Linked DNA regions of Homo sapiens: region 1 is reported to be linked to region 2. The links are microRNA targets in miRTarBase. Many come from high-throughput screens and were not tested one by one. Region 2 holds a microRNA gene; the other region holds the end of a gene's coding sequence.
The links. Region 2 holds the annotated microRNA hsa-miR-6772-5p (UGGGUGUAGGCUGGAGCUGAGG, at 5,835-5,856, shown strand). A microRNA usually pairs through its seed, bases 2 to 8, with sites in the 3' UTR of a target mRNA and lowers its output. Matches are read on the target gene's strand: a 7mer-m8 pairs with bases 2 to 8, a 7mer-A1 pairs with bases 2 to 7 and ends in A, and an 8mer does both.

Region 1 (8,715 bases), not on the chromosome of region 2:
TGAAACCCCATCTCTACTAAAAATACAAAAATTAGCCGGGTGTGGTGGCACGTTGCCTGTAATCCCAGCTACTCTCAAGGCTGAGGCAGGGGAATTGCTTGAACCTGGGGGGCAGAGGTTGCAGTGAGCTGAGATCACTCCACTGCACTCCAGCCTTGGCAACAAGAGCGAAACTCCATCTCAAAAAAATAAAATAGCTGGGTGTGGTGGCTCACGCCTGTAATCGCAACACTTTGCAAGGCCGAGGGGGGTGGATAACAAGGTCAGAGGAGTTCGAGACCATCCTGGCCAAGATGGTGAAACCTCGTCCCCACTAAAAATACAAAAAAATTAGCCGGGTGTGGTGGTGGGTGCCTGTAATCCCAGCTACTTGGGAGGCTGAGGCAGGAGAATCACTTGAACCTGGGAGGCAGAGGTTGCAGTGAGCTGAGATCATGCCACTGCACTCCAGCCTAGGCAACAGAGCAAGACTCCATCTCAAAAATAAAATAAGATACGATAAAATAAAATATAGGCTGGGTGCTGTGGCTCACGCCTGTAATCCCAGAAGTCTGGGAGGCCGAGGCAGGCGGATCACGAGGTCAGGAGTTCAAGACCAGCCTGGCCAATATGGTGAAACACTGTCTCTACTAAAACTAGCAAAATTAGCACCTGTAATCCCTGCTACTTGGGAGGCTGAGGCAGGAGAATCACTTGAACCCAGGTGGCAGAGGTTGCAGTGAGCCGAGATCATGCCACTGCACTCCAGCCTGGGCAACAGAGTGAGACTCCATCTCAAAATAAATAAATAGCAACAGAGTAATACTCTGTCTCAAAATAAATAAATAGGGAGGCTGAGGCGAGCGGATCATGAGGTCAAGAGATAGAGACCATCCTGGCCAACATGGTGAAACCCCATCTCTAATAAAAATACAAAAATTAGCTGGGTGTGGTGGCGTGCACTTGTAATGCCAGCTACTTGGGAGGCTGAGGTAGGATAATCAGTTGAACTCGGGAGGCAGAGGTTGCAGTGAACTGAGATCGGACCACTGCACTCCAGCCTGGTGACAAAGCAAGACACCGTCTCAAAAAATAAATTAATTAATTAAAAAGTAAAAGGGGTTTGAGGGTTTAACATTCTGCCAGCACTTGCTTATTTCTGTGTTGCACAGGGATGCACTGGCAGGAATTTGTATTTTCACGTTTCAGGTTTGGAAAGCAGAGTGGAGAACAAAGAGTTGATTCCAATGCAACAAATTTTAGAAGAAGCGGAGCCACAGGGGCAACTACAAGAAGCGTTCCAGGGGAAGCGCCCCCTGTTTTCTAAGTGTGGCAGTACCCATGAGGACAGGGTGGAAAAGCAGTCCGGAGACCCCTTGCCCCTGAAACTTGAAAATTCTCCTGAAGCAGAAGGACTCAACAGCATCTCAGATGTCAATAAGAATGGTTCCATAGAAGGGGAAGACTCTAAAAATAATGAATTGCAGAACAGTGCCAGGTGTTCCAACCTTGTTCTATGTCAGCACATCCCGAAAGCAGAGAGGCCCACTGACAGTGAGGAACACGGGAACAAGTGCAAGCAAAGTTTCCACATGGTGACGTGGCACGTGCTGAAACCTCACAAGTCTGACAGTGGAGACAGTTTCCATCATTCCAGCCTTTTTGAGACCCAGAGGCAGCTCCATGAAGAAAGACCTTATAAATGTGGTAACTGTGGGAAGAGTTTCAAACAACGCTCTGACCTCTTTAGACACCAGAGAATCCACACAGGTGAGAAACCCTATGGCTGCCAAGAATGTGGGAAAAGCTTCAGCCAGAGTGCTGCCCTGACCAAGCACCAGAGGACACACACAGGCGAGAAGCCGTACACCTGTCTGAAATGTGGGGAGCGCTTCAGGCAGAATTCACACCTAAATCGTCATCAAAGTACCCACAGTAGAGACAAACATTTTAAATGTGAGGAATGCGGGGAAACCTGTCATATTTCCAACCTTTTTAGACATCAGAGACTACATAAAGGGGAAAGACCCTATAAGTGTGAAGAATGCGAGAAGAGCTTCAAACAGCGCTCTGACCTCTTTAAACACCACAGAATCCACACTGGGGAGAAGCCCTATGGATGTTCCGTCTGTGGGAAACGCTTCAATCAGAGTGCAACCCTCATTAAACACCAGAGAATTCACACTGGGGAAAAGCCTTACAAATGTCTTGAATGTGGGGAAAGATTTAGACAAAGTACACACCTTATCCGACACCAAAGAATTCATCAAAATAAAGTGCTGTCGGCTGGGCGTGGTGGCTCACGCCTATAATCCCAGCACTTTGGGAGGCCAAGGCAGGCAGATCATTTGAGATCAGGAGTTTGAAACCAGCCTGGCCAACATGGTAAAATCCTGTCTCTACTAAAAATACAAAAATGAGCCGGGCATGGTGGTGCATGCCTGTAAGCCCAGCTATTCGGGAGGCTGAGGTAGGAGAATCACTTGAACCCAGGAGGCGGAAGTTGCAGTGAGCTGAGATCATGCCACTGCACTCCAGCCTGGGCAACAGAGCGAGACTCCATCTCAAAAAAGAAATAAAGTGCTGTCATTTTGATATGTTTCTATGTGACTTGGCCTGTTTCTTTTCTTGTCCAGAACCACATTCCTTGCCATTTGGAGTATATCAGTCAATTATGGATCTTCCTTGAGTATCTCCTACAAGATAGGTTCAATCTGTCCTGAGCCTCATTACAGACTGATAGTTTCAGTGAGTGAGGAATGAGGAAGTAGGGGGCCTTCTGAAATGTGAGCTGATGCCAGGTAAGAGACTTCTGATGATAAGAGCCAGGCTGACATGTAACGGGGTTCTGTCCTTGTTATCTGCGCTCTACCTTTATGTATTATTTTTGAGACTGGGTCTCGTCGTAGCCCTCCAGCGGGAGCCCAGTGGTGTGATCGTGGTTCACTGTGGCCTCAACCTCCTGGGCTCAAGTGATCCTCTTGCCTTAACCTCCTGAGTAGCTGGGACCACAGGCACACACCACCACACCCAGCTTTTTTTTTTTTTTAAGAGATAGGGTCTTGCTATGTTGCCCAGGCTGGTCTCAACCTCCTGGGCTCAAGGAATCCTCCTGCCTCAGCTTCCCAAAGTGCTGGAATTACAGACACAAGCCACCACACCCAGCCTACCTTTATTTACTTTTTTTTTTTTTTTTTTTTTGAGATGGAGTCTCGCTCTGTCACCCAGGCTGGAGTGTAGTGGCATGATCTTGGCTCACTGCAACCTCCACCTCCTGGATTCAAGCAATTCTCCTGCCTCAGCCTTCCAAGTACTTGGGACTACAGGTGCACCATGCCATGCCCAGCTAATTTTTTGTATTTTAGTAGAGATGGGGTTTCACTGTGTTGCCTAGGCTGGTGGTGAACTCCTAAGCTCAGGCAGTCCGCCCACCTCAGCCTCCCAAAGTGCTGGGATTACACACGAGCCACCATGCCCGGCCTTTTTATTCACTTTTGAACCAAATCTTGCTCACTACAATTATTAATACTTGCCTAAGAATGTATTTTAGTCATTTAAAATTTGCCTTTGGCCTTAGATTGTAGAGAGGGTTTCAACTACTTCATAATCCCCAAAAGATCTGGTAAAGCTCAGTACTCAAAAGAAGCACTCTATTTTTCACTTTCCAGAAAACCTAATTTTGCATAGTCCCTCTTTCTTTCCCATTCTAGGAGCCTAGGAGTTCAGTTTTATGACTTGCTGATTTCTTTTTTTTTTTTTTTTTTTCTTGAGACGGAGTCTCGCTCTGTCGCCCAGGCTGGAGTGCAGTGGCGCAATCTCGGCTCACTACAAACTCCACCTCCCGGGTTCATGCCATTCTTCTGCCTCAGCCTCCTGAGTAGCTGGGACTACATGCACCCCCACCATGCCTTGCTAATTTTTTGTATTTTTAGTAGAGATGGGGTTTCACTGTGTTAGCCAGGATGGTCTGGATCTCCTGACCTCATGATCCGCCCGCCTTGGCCTCCCAAAGTGCTGGGATTACAGGCTGGAGCCACTGTGCCTGGCTTTTTTTTTTTTTTTTTTTTTTGAGACAGATTCTCTGTCGCCCAGGCTGGAGTGCAGTGGCATGATATCGGCTCACTGCAACCTCCGCCTCCCAGGTTCAAGCAATTCCCCTGCTTCAGCCTCCCGAGTAGCTGAGACCACAGGCACTCGCCACCACACCCGGCTGATTTTTTGTAGTGTAGTAGAGACAGGGTTTCACCATGTTGGCCAAGATGGTGTCTATCTCCTGACCTCGTGGTCCGCCCGCCTCAGCTTCCAAGTTTCTAATCATGCCTTGGTCTTTCCAGTTAGCCCCCAAGCTGAACCCATCGGAAATCCAAGAGTTGCCTTATTAGAACAAAGACATGCATCACTAAGGAAATTCCAATGGGTTTAACAGCTCTGTGTCAGGAACAAGTGTCAAAGACCAAATATGATAAGAAAAGATGCTCTTAGCACCCTTATCCCTCAGGAATTCTCCAAGGTTTGGGGAGCTCTCTGCTAGTCATTGAGGATGAAGACCAGATACATATTTATCATGATATCACAAGGCTTATTATACAAAATTTGAGTATTTCTTGCAGAAGTGAATAAAATAGAACATAAGAATCATCTCCAGTAAAGCAAGTGTGGTTGTCCTTTCCAGGTCCTGTGAAAATGAAGGGAAGAGAGTGTCTGCTCAGCTCCACTAGGGGCTCCCACCATCACGGTCAGGAGACCACTCTCTCCCTGATGTAGGTGAGCTGGGGCACGTGTAATAGAGGCCTCTGCTTGAAGGAATATCATCAGGAAACAGCAGTCAGGGCACTAGTGGCCCCTGACAAACACAGGGCAGAGCCCCGGGTCTAGTCTGGGTGTAGGTGGCTTCTGGGTGATAGTGGCTTCTCTTCCTCTAGGAACTGTTTGGAAACTGAAGAGTGTCTGGCCTGGACAGCACCTACACCTCCCTCTAAGTTTGAAGCCATCTCAGGATGGCTGCGCTTTGGATGTGACTGTTCATTTTCTATGGCTGAGTCTCTCTAGATTTGGCAGTTCCCTGTGGCTCAGTGAATTAGAAACAGTTCTCTCCTGTTTGTACCTTCTTTAAACATGAGGATTAATCTGAGTGACAAGTGCCTGAATGTCTGAACTGGTCATTGGAGAGAATCGTAAATACAAACTATCTTTTTTTTTAAAAAAAAAAAAAAAAAGGTCTCACTTTGTCGCCCAGTCTGGAGTGCAGTGGTGTGATCTTGGCTCACTTGCAGCCTCAACTTCCTGGGCTTAAGCGATCCTTCCACCTCAGCCTCCCAAGCAGCTGGGACTACAGGCATACAACCACCACACCCAGCTAATTTTTGTACTTTAAAAGTATGAGAGAGGCTGGGCACAGTGGTTCACGCCTGTAAGCCCAGCACTGGGAGGCCAAGGCTGGCAGATCACGAGGTCAGGCATTCAAGACCAGCCTGGCCAACATGGCGAACGAAACCCCATCTCTACTGAAAATACAAAAATTAGCTGGGCATGCTGACAGGCACCTGTAGTCCCAGCTACTCAGGAGGCTGATGCAGGAGAATCGCTTGAACCCAGGAGGCGGAGGTTGCAGTGAGCTGAGATCTCACCGCTGCACTCCAGCCTGGAAAACAGAGCGAGACTCGCCATCTCAAAAAAAAAAAAAAAAAAAAAAAAGATGAGGTTTTGCCATGTTGGCCAGGCTGGTCTCAAACTCCTGGGTTGAAGTGATCCACCTGCCTCAGCATCCCAAAGTGTTGGGGATTACAGGCATGACGCAGTGCACCTGGCCTGAGAGCAATATTTGTTTGTTTTTTTTGACACGGGGTCTCACTCTGTCGCCCAGGCTGGAGTGCAGTGGTGCAATCTTGGCTCCCTGCAACCTCCACCTCCCGGGTTCAAGCAATTCTCCTGTCTCAGCCTCCTGAGTAGCTGGAATTATAGGTGCCCACCACCACGCCCGGCAAATTAGAGCAATTTTTAATACAGACATAGGATGATGTTTAGGATATCCAAATAATTTAAATGGATCTCTTATATTGTTGAGCTCTAGGGAGAATACACTCAGCTCAACCTATTTAAACTGAATGTCAGAATGTGCTTAGAATAATTGTGGAAACAGAAGGGATATGGCTTCTCAGAGAACATAATTGACACTTTTTGAATACAAGTAGTTTATTTGTTGGGGAGAGGTTGCAACACTATTAGGGAAGGTGGAAGAGACAGAAGGGAAGTCACCCAATGAGGTATCTACCTTGGGTGAGTGCCTGTGTGCAATTCATGGGGAACCTCTGGAAACTAAAACACATGCTTCAGAGTTTTCCACACATGGGGAGATGGAGAATTTGGTGTTTATCAAATTCCCATCGATGATTGGTTGACAGCTGCTCCCAGAATGTGTTATTACCCCACAGGCCACAAGGTGCAGACACAGTCAGATGAAGCCCACAGAAGGTGTAAGGCCAGAGGGACTTCGGCAGGGCCCACGGCACCTATTACAAATATTGACTTACAACTCTTTTTTTTTTTTTTTCTTTTTTGAGATGGAGTCTTACTCTGTCACCGAGGCTGGAGTGCAGTGGCATGATCTCAGCTCACTGCAACCTCTACCTCCCAGGTTCAAGCGATTCTCCTGCCTCAGCCTCCTGGGTAGCTGGGACTACAGGCGCGCACCACCATGCTCGGCTAATTTTTGTATTTTTTAGTAGAGATGGGGTTTCACCATATTGGCCAGGCTGGTCTCAAACTCCTGACCTCGTGATCCACTCGCCTCAGCCTCCCAAAGTGCTGGGATTACAGGCGTGAGCCACTGCGCCGGGCTGACTTACAACTCTTATCAGAATCTAACATACTCATTTTAGATTATGGGCAACTTTTTTTTTTTTTTTTTTTTGAGATGGAGTCTTGGTCTGTCGCCCAGGCTGGAGTGCAGTGGCGCAATCTCAGCTCACTGCAACCTCTGCCTCCCGGTTGAGGTAGGTGATTCTCCTACCTCAGCCTCCCAAGCAGCTGGGATTATAGGCGCCCACCACTGTGCCTGGCTAAATTTTGTATTTTTAGTAGAGACGGGGTTTCACCATCTTGGCTAGGCTTGTCCTGAACTCCTGACCTTGTGACCCACCCGCCTTGGCCTCCCAAAGTGCTGGGATTACAGGTGTGAGCCACCATGCCCGGCCTGATTATGGGCAACTTTTAGTTCTTCATACCTCACTAGTTACTAGTGAGTAGCCCTTAGTTTTGTTTTGTTTTTTAAGTCTATACGTTAGCATGTAATAGTTGTATGTAATACAGGAAAGGCATTCTTCAATCTTTTTTTTTTTTTGAGATGGAGTCTCACTCTGTTGCTGAGGCTGGAGTGCAGTGGTGTGTTCTTGGCTCACTGCAACCTCCACCTCCCAGGTCCAAGCGATTCTCCTGCCTCAGCCTCCCAAACAGCTAATTTTTGTATTTTCAGTAGAGACGGGGTTTCACCATGTTGGCCAGGCTGGTCTTGAACTGACCTCAAGTGATTCTCCAGCCTCAGCCTCCCAAAGTGCTGGGATTACAGACATGCGACACCATACTGGCTGTCTTCAAACCTTCAATCATTCACAACCCATGCAATGGTCCCCAGCCTGGCAACCACACGGCACAGCTTCTATGGCTCCCTTCTGCCTTAACTAGGCTGGAGGGAATGAGGGCATAGAGGGTGCAAGAGAGTGGACACAACAGCCTAATAACCTTTTCTCTGTTTTTTTTTTTTTTTTTTTTTTGAGACGGAGTCTCGCTCTGTCGCCCAGGCTGGAGTGCAGTGGCACGATCTCAGCTCACTGCAAGCTCCGCCTCCTGGGTTCACGCCATTCTCCTGCCTCAGCCTCCCGCATAGCTGGGACTACAGGCGCCTGCCACCACACCCGGCTAATTTTTTGATTTTTTAGTGGAAACGGGGTTTCACTGTGTTAGCCAGGATGGTCTTGATCTCCTGACCTCGTGATCCGCCCACCTCGGCCTCCCAAAGTGCTGGGATTACAGGCGTGAGCCACCGCGCCCAGCCCTTTCTTTTTTTTTTTTGAGACAGCCTCACTCTGTCACCCAGCCTTCTTAGTAGCTGGGACTGGAGGTGTGAGCCACCACACCTGGCTTTGTTATTTTTTGTAGAGATGGGATCTCACTGTGTTGCCCAAGCTAACATTTCCTTTTAAGCGTTTCTTCACTACAGATTGGCTACACAAAGATGGCTCCCATAGAAAAACCCTTTGTTACATTTATTGCTTTTCATGGAAACAATTACGTGATACACACTTGAAGTAGAGGTTTATAAGTTCTAGTTCTCCAATGACTGCTTTCCAATTAACATCATGTGGATATCTGTCCTTTGTGAGTGCCCTGGTGCTTAATAAAGCTTGTGTGCCACTTGAAAGATTTTCCACATATGACACATTGGTAGGGTTGGCTTCCAGTGTGAATGACCTGATGTCGAAAAAGATTCCTCTTAAAACTAAACGTTTTCCCACATTCTCCACATTGAAAGAATTCCTCCTTTGTATGGATTCTTTGATGCTGAATGAGATCCACATTCCTACCAAAGGACTGTCCACATTCACTGCATTTATGGGTGTTCGGTTTACTGTGAATCTGTTGATGACATAGAAGGGTTGAATGCCGGCCAAAGGCTTTTCCACACTCAAGGCATTTATGGCGTTTTTCTCCACTATGGATCACCTGATGTCGAATAAGGGT
Region 2 (8,715 bases):
CAGCCTCCCTAGTAGCTGGGACCACAGGCGTGTGCCACTGTGCCCAGCTAATTTTGGTTACTTGTTGTAGAGACAGGGTTTCCCTATGTTGCCCAGGCTGGTCTTGAACTCCTGGGCTCGAGCACTCCTCCTACCTTGGCCTCCCAAAGTGCTGGGATTACACCACGCCTGGCCCTCTTTGATCTATTTTGAGTTAATTTTTGTATATGGTATAAGGTAAGGATCCAACTCCATTCTTTTGCCTGTGGATATCCAGTTTTCTCAGCACCATTTGTTGAAAAGATTATCCTTTCCCACATTAAATGATCTTGGCAACCTTGTCAAAAATCATTTAACCATATATGCGAGGGTTTATTTCTGGACTCTGTATTCCATTCCATTGCTCTTTATGTCTGTTTTAATGTCAGTACCACACTGCTTTGATTGCTGTAGCTTTTTTTTTTTTAATTTTTTTTTTATTTGAGATGGAGTCTTGCTCTGCTGCCCAGGCGGGAGTGCAGTGGTGCAATCTCAGCTCACTGCGACCTCTGCCTCTCGGGTTCAAGCGATTCTCCTGCCTCAGCCTCCTGAGTAGCTGGGATTACAGGCGCCTGCCATGAGGCCCGGCTAATTTTTGTATTTTTAGTAGAGATGGGGTTTCGTCACGTTGGCCAGGGTGGCCTCAAACTTCTGACCTCAGGTGATCCGCCTGCCTCGGCCTCCCAAAGTGCTGGGATTACAGGCATGAGCCACCGCGCCTGGCCAATTGCTGTAGCTTTTTAGTGAGTTTTGAAATCAGGAAGTGTGAGACCTTCAGTCTTTCAAGACTGTTTTAGCTATGTGGTGTCCCTTGATATGGATTTTTCTATTTCTTTAGAAAATGTCATTGGGATTTTGTTAGGCATTGCATTGAATCTGTAGATCACTTTGGGTAGTACTGACACCTTATCAATATTAAATCTTCTAATCCATGAACATGGAATGTCTTTCCATTTATTGGTGTCATCTTTAATTTCTTTCACCAATATCTTGTAGTTTTTAGCATACAATATTTAACCTTTGTTAAGTTTATTCCTCGGTACTTTATTCTTTTTGATGCTATTGTAAATGGAATTATTTTCTTAATTTCCTTTTTGGATTGTTTATTGTTAGTTGTAGAAATGTAACCGATTTTTGTGTGTTCATTTTGTATCCTTCAACTTTGCTGAATTTATTAGTTCTAATTGCCCTGCTTTTAAAATCAAATTAATTCCAACATTCAAATCTTAATTAAATTCACATAAAACTCTAGACTTCCTTTTTGTCATAAAATATTGGAAGATGTGGCACCTCTGAGCTGACATTCCCACATGGCACCCACCGCTTGAGGTCTAGTGGCAGCTCCTGCCTTTGGTGGAGGTGACCATCCTTTAGCACGCTCCAGCCCCACCACCCTTTCTGTCTCTGCTTACCAACCTCATCCACAAGTTCTGCTCTGGCTGGCCCCTCATGCATTCAGCATTCTTCCTACAGGTACTTACTGAACACCTACTGTGTACCAGGCACTGTTCCAGGCACTGGGAGTACAGTGCTGAACACAACAGACAAAAATCCCTGCCTTCGCATATATCATCTCGTTTAATCCTCGAGACAGCTTCCATGAGGTAGCCTCATTATACAAATAAGGAAACTAAGAGACATAGAGAACTTAAGAGACTTGTCCAAGGTTACCCAGCAGGTAAGGGGATGTCTGGATTAGAACCTGGGCAGCCTGGCTTTAGAATTCGAATTGTCAGCTGCTATTACTGCCCATCAGTGGCGGAAGGACCCAGAGGTGAAGACTTGGCAACAGAGGCAGGGTGGCGTGGACAGGGGACAGATAGGCCTGGCCGGTGGTCATACAGCCAGGATCAGGCCTTCTGTGGGCTCCACAGGGTGTGCTCCCAGGGCCGCCCCGCTGGCCTCTGGGCTGAGTTTCCTTGAGGTTGTCTGGATCCCAGACCCTCTGGCCTTCCCAGCTCAGCAGCTTCAGCCTGGGAGAGCCCGCTTTTCCTCAGCAGACAGCTGATGATCGTTGACTGGGCTTGGTGGGAGGTAAGGAGGTAACCAGCAGGTTTTCTTTCTGTGATGGTAAGAGGCCGCCTTGGAAGCAGACAGCTGAGAAAACACAAAGACCTGGGCTGGCTGGCCCCACCCTTGGTCGAGCCGCTTCTGCCTGTGAAGTGTAAATGCAGGTGGTGTCAAGCCGGCAGACAGGCCCAGCTCCCTCTTCCCCTTGAGCAGGCAGGGTGACGCCCCCTGCAGCAGGCCCGTGATTCAGTTGCTCTGGCTGATGAGGAGCCTGGGCCCGGGAGGAGTGTCGCACAGCCCCAGCCTGGTCCGTCCTCAGCCCTGGATTGACGTCCATGCTGTCCTGGGACCGTTTCAGCCGCCTAGTGGGGAGTCTGCTTTCTCCTCCGTCCTGTGTCTTGGGCTCAGGCATGTGCCTGCTGCCCCTTTGTGGCCACAAGTATGTATCGGGCCCAGGGTGGCACTCGGGACCCTCCCCTGTTGGGCTTAGAGACATGGACGGCCCTTGCTGGCTGGAAGCTGCGGTGAGTGTGTGAAGGGCCCTCAGTCTTCCCTGAGGAAGGCCCTGCCTGCTCTTGGCTCTCACTGCTCCCAGGCCATCTTCCATCCGCTTTCCCCAGGTGCCTCCGTTTCTCTCTGACTTCTTGCCTGTTTTCCCTAACTCTGAGAGATTGCCTGCCTTCAAGTGCAGGAGAAAGCAGACATCTTCCCTACAAGCCCGAGACCTAGCCCCCAGTAGAGCTGGCCAACCACCTGCCACGGAGCAGGCCACTGGTGCCTTGGCCAGAGTGCTCGTGGTGCCAGTCTGCTGCGTCTCAGTCACATTCCCCCTGCTTTGCTGCCCTCAAGAAGCCAGAGATGACCTAGTGTCTGACACCTCTGAACAAAGGGGCCTTTAGAGCCCCTTCCTCAACTCCCTCACCATCCCCCATGCTCCCCAGCCTGCCCTGGTTGCGGTTGCGGCCACTTCCTTTTGGGTGCCCCTCTGAGATTCTGGACAGAGCCCAGGAGCCCCCAGGTTCCCATTGTGATGCAAGGACAGAACAGAACCCTGGGCCGCAGGCAGGTGGCTGGTGGGTATCCCGCCTCCCACCCCCAGCAAACACTGGCAAACCCCACTCTCCCTGCATCAGGGTCTGAGTGCCTGGCAGGGGCGGCAGTGGAGATGATCAAGGTTAGTGCGCCCAGCCCCATGCTGAGGCAGCAGCCTTTCTGGGGAGGGAGGGGGCGTGGAAGGAGACTTCAACCTTTTGAAGAGGAAGTCAGTTCACTTATGTCAGGGTAGGGAGAGTAGGAATTACGTATTCTTTGAGACTGAAAAATTACTGGCCGGGCGCAGGGGCTCACAACGGTAATCCCAGCACTTTGGGAGGCTGAGGCGGGAAGACTGCTTGAGGCCAGGAATTCAAGGCCAGCTTGGGCAAAATGGCAAGACCCTTCTATACATTAAAAAAAAAAAAAAAATTAGCCGGGCGTGATGGTATGTGCTTGTAGTCCCAGCTACTCGGGAGGCTGAGATGGGAGGATGGCTTGAGTCCAGGAGGTCTAGGCTGCAGTGAGCCTAGATCGAGGCACTGCACTCCAGCCTGGGTGACAGAGTGAGACCCTGTCTCAAAAAGAAAAAAAAAAATTACTGAAAAGCATAAAGATTTTGTCAACTATAATTCCACAGCCCAGAGACCCCCACTTTTTAGTGCTGTACACTTAATGGTTTTTCAGATGTTTCTTGGACTTAATATGTTGATGAGCCTTTCCCCATGACATTTAAAACTCCTGATAAACATGAATGTAATGATGACAGAATAGTCTATGTACTATATATACACATTGTAATTCACCTGCCCACTCCTCTAAGGGTGCTTATTCAGGGTATTCTCAATTTTAGGACGAAAGCAGAAAGGCTGCCTCATGCAAACTGTCCCTACTCCCACCCAGGGGCCAAAGGACTTGAGCCGTCCTCTCATCAGGCACTGAGCGGGCAGAGAAGTGGCACAAGCTCTGCCTCCCTGCCTGGCCCGTGGCCCAGCGTGTTGCTAGGAAGGAATGTGTTTGTGCAGGTGGCGGCAGAGCTGACCTCCAGGGGTCTGGCCCTTGGGTCACCTGCTTGTCCCCCAGGAGGCCTGGCTGGGCCCCCAGCCTTTCACCTGGGTCTTGCATCTTGGAATCCCCCTGCCCCACCAAGAGCAGGCAGTGCCAGCTCCCTGGCCTTTTCCTCAGAGGTGGGGGTGGATCCCTTGGTCCACTTCCTCCCTGACCACTCAGAGCTGGCCTAGCTGCTGTGAGTCAGCCGTTCTCTCCCACCCTGGGAGACAGGGACCTCCGAGGCCGAACACTACCTTGTTTGATGACACAGACTTGTTTGATGACATCTCAACCATGTAAAGTAGGGAGATTTTACACACACCCCCAAAATCCAAATGTCCGGCCTGTCTTAACTATGGCTGATGCATGCTGCTGAGTGCTAAGGGGGCGGACTCTAAGCCTCTATTTTTATTTTATTTTTTTTAGACAGCCTCGCTCTGTCACCCTGGGGTACAGTGATGCTATCATAGCTTACTGCAGCTTCAAACTCCTGGGCTCAGGTGATCTCCCACCTAACCCCCCGGATTACAGCTGGGATTATAAGCGTGCACTGGTGCACTCGGCTGAGTTTTGAAACTTTTTGTAGAGATGGGGTCTTGCTGTGTTGCTCAGGCTGGCCTAGGCCTCTCTTGAAAGATGAGAATTTTGGCGATGCTGGGTGTGCGTTCTCACCTCCTGTCGTCCGAGGAGAGTACGTGGTGGCCGCCTTCTTAAAGGGTTCTTGGGAGCCAAGCCCTGCACAGCCCCTCACCTGCCTTACCTGGCTGTCCCCTGTAATCAGTGGACGTTGTTGCCTATCATTTAGTAATGAGAACCCAGCTGTGTAAACCTCCTAAACCACCACACAGGAATCTGGCTCTTAGCGCACCTTTCCCGAGGTGGGGGTTGCTCACCACAGGACGTTCTGCAAGAAAAGTACTAAACATGCCCTGACGGAAGCTGGAGCCAAAGTCTGTGTCTGTGAATTGTTTCCTGAGAGAGGTTTCTGGGGGTGGGCTGATGTGAGACCAGGGTCTAGGGCCTTGGGAGGGGATGGGTGGCTGGAGGACAGCGCCGGGGAAGGGTTGCTCCCCTGGGATCTGCCCTCATGGGACTGGCACCATGATGGTGTCCCCTCTTCTGGGGTCCGGATAAGCTAGGTAACCGTGGCTTCCTCATGGGGTGCACACCCCCTTCCCCCTATAAGAGCCTTGGCTGCCACAGCTTTCCTGCAAGGCAGATTGGGAGCAGGGGTGGACACAGGTTCTGAGTGTGCCCTGACCACTGGCAGACCCATCTCCACAGGCTGACTTGCCAGAGACCACCCCAAGTGGAAAATTCTGGGGGCTGGGCCAGGGTGGATCTAGGGCTCGGAGGACCTGGAGTATGTACCATCTGGGGGCCCTTTTAAAGAGAGAGAACATAAAATTACATAGACACAGGCAGGTACAGGACTTTGGGAGGGGCTCGTGTAGTGAGGGGTCCTGAGGGTGGGCTGCCGTTGGGTGGGCCCAGGGGGCATCGGGGTGGCCTTGGTTGCACTTGCCCTCTGGGCTTTCCTGAAGAGCTGGGGTTGGCTCTGTCCTGTGGAGGGAGAGGGTGCGGGAGGCTGTCAGCACCAGCCCAGGTTTCTCTCACCTGAAGTCCCAGGTGTGATGGGATGCTTGAACATAGGGGAACCTAAGGCCACAGCCTTAGAAGAAGCCACAGCCACATCAGTCATCCCTGGTGCTGGGCAGGAGGCCTGGGTGTAGGCTGGAGCTGAGGACTGAGGCTCACCTTGCTCCTGACTCTGTGCCCACAGGTAGAACACCTGAAGGAGAAGCTCATTAGCCAGGCCCAGGAAGTGAGCCGACTGCGATCTGAGCTGGTGAGGCCACAAGGCTGTCCTGGGGTAGCGCAGGGCCTGGCCTGCCTTGTGCAGATGGGCCCTGCCAGGGGCAGGGGTGCGACCCTCTCTCTCCTGAGCCCGCATATCCCACCCTGTCTCAGAAACACACCGAGAGCCTTATCCCCACCTCCTAGTACCCTCAGAGGCCTTGTGGCTCCAGGGGGTGGGAGGTTCCTTCTCTGTTGCTGACATTAAACGGGAGTGTGAACCCTGGTATAAATATGTCTCTCCTTGTGACTTTCACACTCAGAATAGGGTGGGGGCAGCAGGGAGAGCAGGCTCTGGGTCACCACCCTTCTCAACTCTGCCCTCCACTGTCTTTCTCTTGGTTTCTCTCTTGAGCTTGTTCCCTCCTCTCTTGCCCTTGCCTTTTTCTTTTTCTTTTTCTCCTTCCCTCTGCCTTTCTCCACACCTCTCCTCTCTTCCCTGCCCTTGTGCCATCTCCGCGGGCCTCTCTTCTTTCCCCCGTCATCTGCCCTCGCCACATGCGCCCCCTCGGCCCTGGCTCTCTGCAGGGGGGCACCGACTTGGAGAAGCACCGGGACCTGCTGATGGTGGAGAATGAGCGACTGAGGCAGGAGATGCGGCGCTGTGAGGCCGAGCTGCAAGAGCTGCGCACAAAGCCAGCAGGTCCCTGCCCAGGTTGTGAGCACAGCCAGGTGAGCAGAATGGCCGTGGTCCCCATGCTGGTCCTGGAGGGCCACCCCAGCTCCTCACAGTGAGCCTGTCCCTTGCACTCATCCAGTGCCTCCCAATGGCTGCAGGAGAGCGCCCAGCTCCGTGACAAGCTGTCCCAGCTGCAGCTGGAGATGGCGGAAAGCAAAGGCATGCTGTCAGAGCTGAACCTAGAGGTGCAGCAGAAGACCGACCGGCTGGCTGAGGTGGAGCTGCGACTCAAGGACTGCCTGGCTGAGAAGGCACAGGAGGAGGAGCGGCTTAGTCGGCGCCTGCGTGACAGCCACGAGACCATTGCCAGCCTGCGGGCCCAGTCCCCACCTGTCAAGGTGAGCCCTGGCCCACCTGATCTGTGCCTCAGCCCAAGGCCCCTGGCACCTGGGGCAGGGCTAGCCCATAAGGGGGGCTTGTCCTGGTGAATAGGTAGGTGTGTGTGGGTGGAAGAATCATTCCAGTTCTGTGCTTGGTCCTGCCCCTTCCCCTTCCTGTATCCAGGGCCAGGCACCGAGTAGGTATCCAACAGCTGAGGTGCCAGGCACAGATGCAGCGCAGCCCCTGGATTCTGCCCTCGTCTTTTTGCCTTTCTTGTCTGTACCCAGGATGGGGCCCCAGCCAGGCTCATAGTAGCCTCTTGTTAAGCTGAGAAGGTTCCAGGAGACCCCCCCAGCTTTCTGGAAAGCCAGGACCTCAAGGCTCCTCTAGTTTTTTTCTGGTTTCTGAGTGGGATGTTCCCGAGAGTTCCTTCCCCTGGCCTGCTGCGTCTCAGGCTCTTGGGTGAGGTACGGTGCCCGCTGGCTCCACGTGCCATTCCTCCCTCACCCTGCAGTATGTCATCAAGACAGTGGAGGTGGAGTCGTCCAAGACCAAGCAGGCCCTCAGCGAGTCCCAGGCCCGGAACCAGCACCTGCAGGAGCAGGTGGCTATGCAGAGGCAGGTGCTGAAGGAGATGGAACAGCAGCTGCAGAGCTCACACCAGCTGACCGCGCGGCTCCGGGCGCAGGTACCCAGGCTGTGTGGGGGCACATGCCCAGCCAGGAAGCCAGAGGCAGGCCCTTGGGCCAATGCATCGGTTAAACATTTGGGTACCCCACAGACACGGGGTCCAGTCCCTCCTCTCCCCGATGGCCACGGGACCCAGGGCAAGTTTTGTCTGGTTTCCTTTTCCTCATCTATTATAACACGATCTGGTCCCAGAACCCACCTCACAGTGGGGACTCAGGAACGTCATCCCAAGAAGCTTTGTGCCCACGGCCCAGCACACAGGCTGTGCTCAGTAAGCTCTACATGGCACTTGTCACTGTCATCACAGAGGCCCTCTCCTACCTTCCTGAGGGCACGTGGCTTGGGCACCTGATGTGTGCTCAGCACTGGGTTGGTGTTGGAGCCAATGCCCAGAGCTCACAGCCCTGTAGGGGGAGGGAGACAAGGCCATTCTGCCCCTCTGGGTGTGCACATGTGTGTGTGCATGTGTGTTCATGTGCATGGGAGGTGACCAGTTTCTTTCTCGGTGTGGCACCTGCCCCTCTCTCTCCCGCACCTCGAGGTACTGAGCCTTTTCCTGGTCTGGCCAGATTGCCATGTACGAGTCAGAGCTGGAGCGGGCCCATGGGCAGATGCTGGAGGAGATGCAGTCCCTGGAAGAGGACAAGAACCGGGCCATTGAGGAGGCCTTTGCCAGAGCCCAGGTGGAGATGAAGGCTGTGCACGAGAATCTAGCAGGTGAGCTGACCAGCTGGGCCCTGTCTGCCCCACGCCGCGGCCCCTCATCCCCTCCCGCCTCACAGCCCGAGTGTCCCCATAGGCGTCCGGACCAACTTGCTGACCTTGCAGCCGGCACTGCGGACCCTCACCAACGACTACAATGGGCTCAAGCGGCAGGTGCGCGGCTTCCCACTGCTGCTGCAGGAGGCCCTCAGGAGTGTCAAGGCCGAGGTGAGCGAGGGCAGTGGGTGGGAGGGTCCAGGCTAAGGGGGTGCACTGGGAGAGGCACGACATCCACTCAGGGCGTCCCTCCAAAGCTCAGACAAAGCCGCTCAGACAGCAGCCCCTGCCCCACCCCC

Region 1: miRTarBase lists ZNF394 as a target of hsa-miR-6772-5p. The part of its 3' UTR that is shown has no 7-base or 8-base seed match.

What each region holds. Positions count from the first base shown.
Region 1 is chr7:99,487,105-99,495,819 of GRCh38, reverse strand. ZNF394 (zinc finger protein 394) reads left to right here. Exons shown (of 3, transcript NM_032164.4): 3 at 1,189-2,580. The coding sequence ends at 2,291. ZNF789 (zinc finger protein 789) reads right to left here. Exons shown (of 5, transcript NM_213603.3): 5 at 8,215-8,715. The coding sequence ends at 8,332. Among named protein-coding and RNA genes, the nearest start is that of ZNF394, 8.8 kb to the left of the region's middle.
Region 2 is chr16:57,769,467-57,778,181 of GRCh38, reverse strand. It overlaps MIR6772 (microRNA 6772), which reads left to right and starts at 5,830; the gene lies at 5,830-5,893. It overlaps KIFC3 (kinesin family member C3), which reads left to right. Exons shown (of 20, transcript NM_001130100.2): 4 at 5,894-5,959; 5 at 6,496-6,639; 6 at 6,745-6,984; 7 at 7,482-7,655; 8 at 8,227-8,374; 9 at 8,457-8,587. RefSeq lists enhancers at 1,805-2,383, 2,352-2,411, 2,962-3,540.